Regions from separate parts of the Homo sapiens genome. Here region 1 is linked to region 2. Evidence: fine-mapped expression QTL. Tissue or cell type: whole blood. Region 2 holds a variant in brackets; the other region holds the start of a gene. Each region is shown on its reference strand, or each on the opposite one. Region 1 holds the start of GUK1 (guanylate kinase 1). Region 2 overlaps AP2B1 (adaptor related protein complex 2 subunit beta 1).

Region 1 (2,809 bases), not on the chromosome of region 2:
CTCGGACTCCCAAAGTGCTGGCATTACAGGTGTGAGCCACTGCACCCAGCCTTCAATAAATCTTTTTTAAAAATTTAAAATAATTTTTAGAAATAGAGTCCCGTGGCCAGGTGCAGTGGCTCACGCCTGTAATCCCAGCACTTTGGGAGGCCAAGGTTGGTGGATTACCTGAGGTTAGGAGTTCAAGACCAGCCTGGCCAACATGGTGAAACCCTGTCTCTACTAAAAATACAAAAATTAGCTGGGCGTGGTGGCGGGCGCCTGTAATCCCAGCTACTCGGGAGGCTGAGGCAGGAGAATCGCTTGAACCTAGGAGGCCCAGGTTGCAGTGAGCAGAGATGGCGTCACTGAACTCCAGCCTGGGTGACAAGAGCGAAACTCCGTCTCAAAAAATAAAAAAAGAAAGAAATAGGGTCTCGCTCTGTCACACAGACTGGAGTGCAGTGACACGAACACCGCTCACTGCAGCCTCGACTGCCCAGGCTCAAGCGACCGTCCCACGTCAGCCTCCCGAGTAGCAAGGACTACAGGCACAAAAAAGTTTTTAAATTTTTTGGTACAGAAGGGGTTTCCCTATGATCCCCAGGCTGGTCTCCAATTCCTGGCCTCAAGCGGTCCTCCCGGCTCGGACTCCCAAAGAGCTGGGATCACAGACGTGAACCACGCGCCCGGCCACATTCCCCAATTAATGGTTTTTGGAGAGTGGCCGGTTTGGAACGGGCTAGCGGAGTCGTTCGTTAGTTAGGTCCCTGCAGTGTAGATGGAGGACGGAAACGGCGCTGTGACATAAGCGGGAGGAGGCGGGCTGAGGCAGCGCTGTGACGTAGCAGATGAAAGCCGGGCCCGCGCTGCACTGAGGTACTTCTCTGAGTGACAAGCGGGACAAGTACGCCGTGGGCGGGGCCGGCGGGTCGTGATGTTAGTTCGCGCTGTGTGGAGGCGGGCCGGCGTGGCGCTGTGACGCAGCGGGAGAAGACGGGCTGGGAGGGCGCTGTGCTGAACGCCCCTGCGGTCGCGACAGGCCAGCGCAGGTGGAGGCGGGGCTAGCGAGGCACTGAGGTAAGTACTTCCCTAAGGGGCGGGGAAGAACGAGTGAGACATGGGCGGGGCAGTCGCCTCATGACGTCAGTCTCGCGCGCGGGCGGAGGTGGGCCGGTGCGGCGCTGTCACGTAGGTTCAGTGGGCGGAAGAGGTGGCCCCGGATGCTGCGGCGCCCGCTGGCCGGGCTGGCTGCGGCCGCCCTGGGCCGGGCCCCACCGGACGGTGAGTACGACAAGCGCGATCGCGAGGGTGACTCGGGTCGAGGCGGCAGCGGTCCCTGCGCTTTGCGGTCGCCCAGTCCACGCCGCCTCCGGATCTCCTCCTAGCCGAGACGCCCTGTGCCGCATTCAACTGTGGGCCCTGAGAACGGGGGAGCTCTGGAGGGCGGACGGGCTGGCAACGCAGCGGAGCCCGGGTCCCGGAGGGCGGGGCGCTCCTCAGGAGCTGGGCAGGCCGGCAGTTATCGCAGTGTCGAGCTGCTCCCCGGGCGTATAGGAGCGCTCGGTGTCTTCCCGACACCTGGGCGCGCCGCCAAAGAGAGCAGCTGGGAGTCCCTACCGCTGGCCCGGCGCGGTGTGCGCTCCGGTTCCCACCTCACCCTGCAAGCCTTGGGGTCCTGGGCGGATGGAGCCGGCTATTCCGGGGCTCCCAGGATTCTGCCTACTCCGCGGCACGGCGCAGAGACGGGGACTTGGGGAAACAGCAGGCCTTCCCGACGCATGGGTGTGGCATTTGGGGTTCGGATTCTCCAAAGCCAGAGTCCGGGTTGGGGTTCTTGAAGCTGCCCTGCTGCCATTCTTGAGCGTCGCCTTAGAAGTATGCCCCAGTAAGGACTGGTGTGGGAAGCAGGTGCCTCAAAGTTGATTTTGACCCTGCGTGTGGTGGGCCTCGGTTTCGTCTTTGCATGAAAGAGGTCGGTCCTGAGGCCCCGGGCTGGGTCCTGCTCTGCTGTCTTTGGGCTCATGGCCCCTTCCTGTCTCAGGCTTGCTCTGCTCTTTACCTGGGGTTGCTGTCGAGGACCCTGTGCAAGACTCGGCCGGTTTTTCTTTCTCCCTGATGGACAGACCCAAACATAGCCGCGCAGCATCGTGAAGGGCTGGGGCCTTCACTCCTCTGTGGCTCTGGAAGAGCCCGATTTCCTCAGGAGGTAAAGGAATGTTCCTGTCCCCCCCGGGGAAAGAAAGTGAAAATGAAAGCGCCCTGGCTGCTCCTGGTGTGGTCCCATTTAAAACGAGGTTGCTGAAGGCCAGGATGCGTGCTACCCGGATGTGTGCCCAGAAACCCTGCAGCCAAGAGCAGCCGCCTGGACCACCAGCCTCCCCTTCATCCACCTGGCCCAGCCCAGAGCCCAGGCCCACGTCTGGTGGTTTGTGTCTTACGAGAGGCCAGGCGGGGGCTGAATTCTCTCGGTTCTCAGAAGGTCAAGCCCTCTGTTAGCATCTCCTCGAACAGTGGGCCGGGGGCAAGGTGGTGACTCTGTTCAGTCCTTAGGATGGCTGGAAGCCAGAAGGAGGAGATTATGCCGCCACAGCAGGGAGTGCCTTTCCAGGAAAGCGGCTGCTGGGGCAGCATGGGAGCCCAGTCCAGGGAGCGTTCTGGCAGAGACCATTCCGGAACATGGATCTGCGCCGGCGGCTCCCAGGAGACCTTCCATCTCGGAGCTCCTGTGGAGACCACGTGCCTGGCAGGTCCTTACAGTTGTGGGTTGTGTGGCTTCTTGCCAGGCAGCTGATTGGAGTTTGCGACTGTGGGTTGGTGAGAGTGGAGA
Region 2 (2,809 bases):
ATTTGTAGTGTTTTGGCTTTGAGAGTACTTGAATTTTGTTAAATCATATCTTAAACCACTTAAGTAATGAATTTTATTTTTTGTAAACCTTGTTACTATGTAATCAGACTTTCTTTTCATAATGAGATGTGTTGGCTCACTAGGTAGTTTTACCTCTCATTCTAAGGAAGAAGATGGGGAAAAAATGGAATATTCTAGATTGTAATGTAGCAGGCATATTAACAGTTGGCATTCTAGACAGTGTTTTGGATTAAAGTATAAGCCCTAAGTTTTACTTGTTTGACTGGTACTGCAGTCATTGTCTCCTTAAGGAGATAATAATGACTGAAACTCTCAGAACAAATATGTTGTCCTATGCCTCACATGTCATTTGAGGTCATTCTGTAAAGGAGATAGCAATATTCTAACACTGCTAATTTAGAAGAGAACAAAAATATGTAAACCACCTGTGTATTTCCTCATAATAGTTTTGGTCAGTTACTCTACTTCTTTCACTTTATTCAAGTCTTCAGGGATACCAGCCAAAATAATTGTAAATTGAGCAGAAAAACTGAAGCATAAATCTGTTCATAGTGTGTGACCTTGAAGGTCATTGCTGGAAATCAAAGTCCTGTAAATAGTAATTTACTTAACAGGAAGAAGTCACTGAACTGGAAAGTGGTAAGTTTCTAAGGTTCCAAGGCCACGAAAATGAGTGAAATTAGAGTGCAAGGTGAAAATCATTTTAAGGGACAGGGAAATGGGTGAGAGATTCCTCATAAGTGAGCTTATGTGTGTGATATTCCACTCCCAGTTTATATCTAGATTTCCTTTGAGAGTCCTTTTTTTTACAGGGTCATTTTTATTCTAACCATACCTACTGTACCAGCTCACTCCTTTTTTAACAAAATGAGGTCAAATTTATTATCCTCAACTGCTGCATATAAGACAGGTATAGATCATAAATCATATTTTATAGCTAGGTAGTAAATCTTTCCCTCCCTAAGTACTGTAGGATATGATTATCTCTGAAATGTATAAAGTAGAATACATTTTTCTCCTTGTATATAAATCTACATGTCACCTTTGCTGGAAATAATGTTTGGATTATATTATCCTCCCCTACTCTGAATCTTCTTTCCCTTCCCTTGGTTGAAGTTCACAAGTCTTGGAAGCTCTATAAATGCTGGAGACCAAGTATTAGTACTCAGAC[A/G]CTGGAATCAGATGCAGACCTTGAGTTCAGATTCAAGCAGGAATCCCTTTCTGGCTGTGTTGACCCTAAGCAAGTCACTGAACTTCTCTAAGTCAGTTTTGTTATCTGTAATAGGTGGCTTTTAGTAGCAGCTACTTCAGAGTTGTTATGAGGATTAATAGCACAAAGTAAATATTCAATACATTTTAGCTATTCCAGTCTTTTATCTCTGTAAAACTCATTCTATTAGTATAATGTAAGTAAAAATACAAATTGCTTATCATTAAAAATTCAGGCTGGGTATGGTGGTTCACACCTGTAATATTAGCACTTTGGGAGGCCAAGGCAGGAAGATTGCCTGAGGCCAGGAGTTTGAGAGAAGCCTGGGCAACATAGTGAGACCCTGTTTCTATTTAAAAAAAAAACAAAAACAACCAGCAGATTCCACAGGTCCATAAGGAAATATCATATTGAAGAGAAGTCTGTAATTAAGGCGGAGAAAGATTTGTCTAGGATTGAGTATGATTTTACACATCTACATGTGCTGCTTTTATATATATGTTTGTGTTTAATATCTATCTCTGTAAAGTATACATAATTGGGTTAGCTCTTTGAGGGGATGTGAGGGGTGGGGAATGTTTAGTTTCAGTCTCCCCAAGAATAGAATTTACCATAATTGGGAGGCAAGATGAATAAAGGATTTTTTTTAGTTTTTTATTTTACTTTTATCTTTTTGGAGACAGAGTCTCATTCTGTTGTCCAGGCTAGAGTGCAATGGTGTGATCTTGGCTTACCGCAACCTCTGCCTCGCATGTTCAAGTGATTCTCGTGCCTCAGCCTCCCGAGTAGCTGGGATTACAGGTATGCACCACCATGCCTGGCTAATTTTTGGTATTTTAATTAGAGACAGGGTTTCACCATGTTGGCCAGGCTGATCCCAAGCTTCTGGCCTCAAGTGATCCACCTGTTTCAGCCTCCCAAAGTGCTGGGATTACAGGCGTGAACCACCGTGCTCGGCCAAGGATTTATTTTTTTAATGCTGCAAATGTGTCCCTTTGTCACCTGGATGCCAACTTTTTATAAATCAACTTGTGCTGAGGAAGCTCTCTTAAGAAACCCTATTTGTAGGCCAGGTACCTTATGGTGGCTCACACCTGTAATCTCAGCACCTTAGGAGGCCAAGATGGGAGGACTGCATGAGGCCAGGAATTTGAGACCAGCCTGGACAACATAGTGAGACCCCTGTCTCTACCAAAAAAAAAAATTAGCCAGGCATGGTGGCATGCACTGTGGTCCCATCTGCTAGTTCAAGATTACAGTGAACTATATGATTATGCCACTACACTGTAGCCTGGGTGACGGGCAAGACCCTGTCTCTTAAAACCAACCAACCAAACAAACCCCAAGGAAATCCTATTTAAAAATTCATTTTTAAAGCGAAACTTTCTCTAGAAACCCCCCTTTTTGGCTGGGTATGGTGACTCACATCTGTAATCCCAGCACTTTGGGAGGCCAAACTGGGAGGATTATTTGAGACCAGGAGTTCAAGACCAGCCTGGGCAATATAGCCAGCCCCATCTCTAAAAATTTAATTAAGAAACTTGACTGGGTGTGGTGGTACAAGCCTGTAGTCCTGGC

Evidence for each region. PIP is the estimated chance that this variant, and not a neighbour inherited with it, causes the effect.
Region 1: GUK1 starts here. The variant in region 2 is fine-mapped to the expression of GUK1 in whole blood (TOPMed, PIP above 0.99).

Annotation. Positions count from the first base shown.
Region 1 is chr1:228,139,101-228,141,909 of GRCh38, forward strand. GUK1 (guanylate kinase 1) reads left to right here and starts at 1,179. Exons shown (of 8, transcript NM_001159390.2): 1 at 1,179-1,263. The coding sequence starts at 1,203. RefSeq lists enhancers at 806-855, 966-1,195 and a silencer at 1,206-1,765.
Region 2 is chr17:35,617,896-35,620,704 of GRCh38, forward strand. All of the region lies in intron 5 of AP2B1 (adaptor related protein complex 2 subunit beta 1), which reads left to right. Among named protein-coding and RNA genes, the nearest start is that of AP2B1, 32 kb to the left of the region's middle. The variant A/G (reference allele first, on the strand shown) is at 1,193.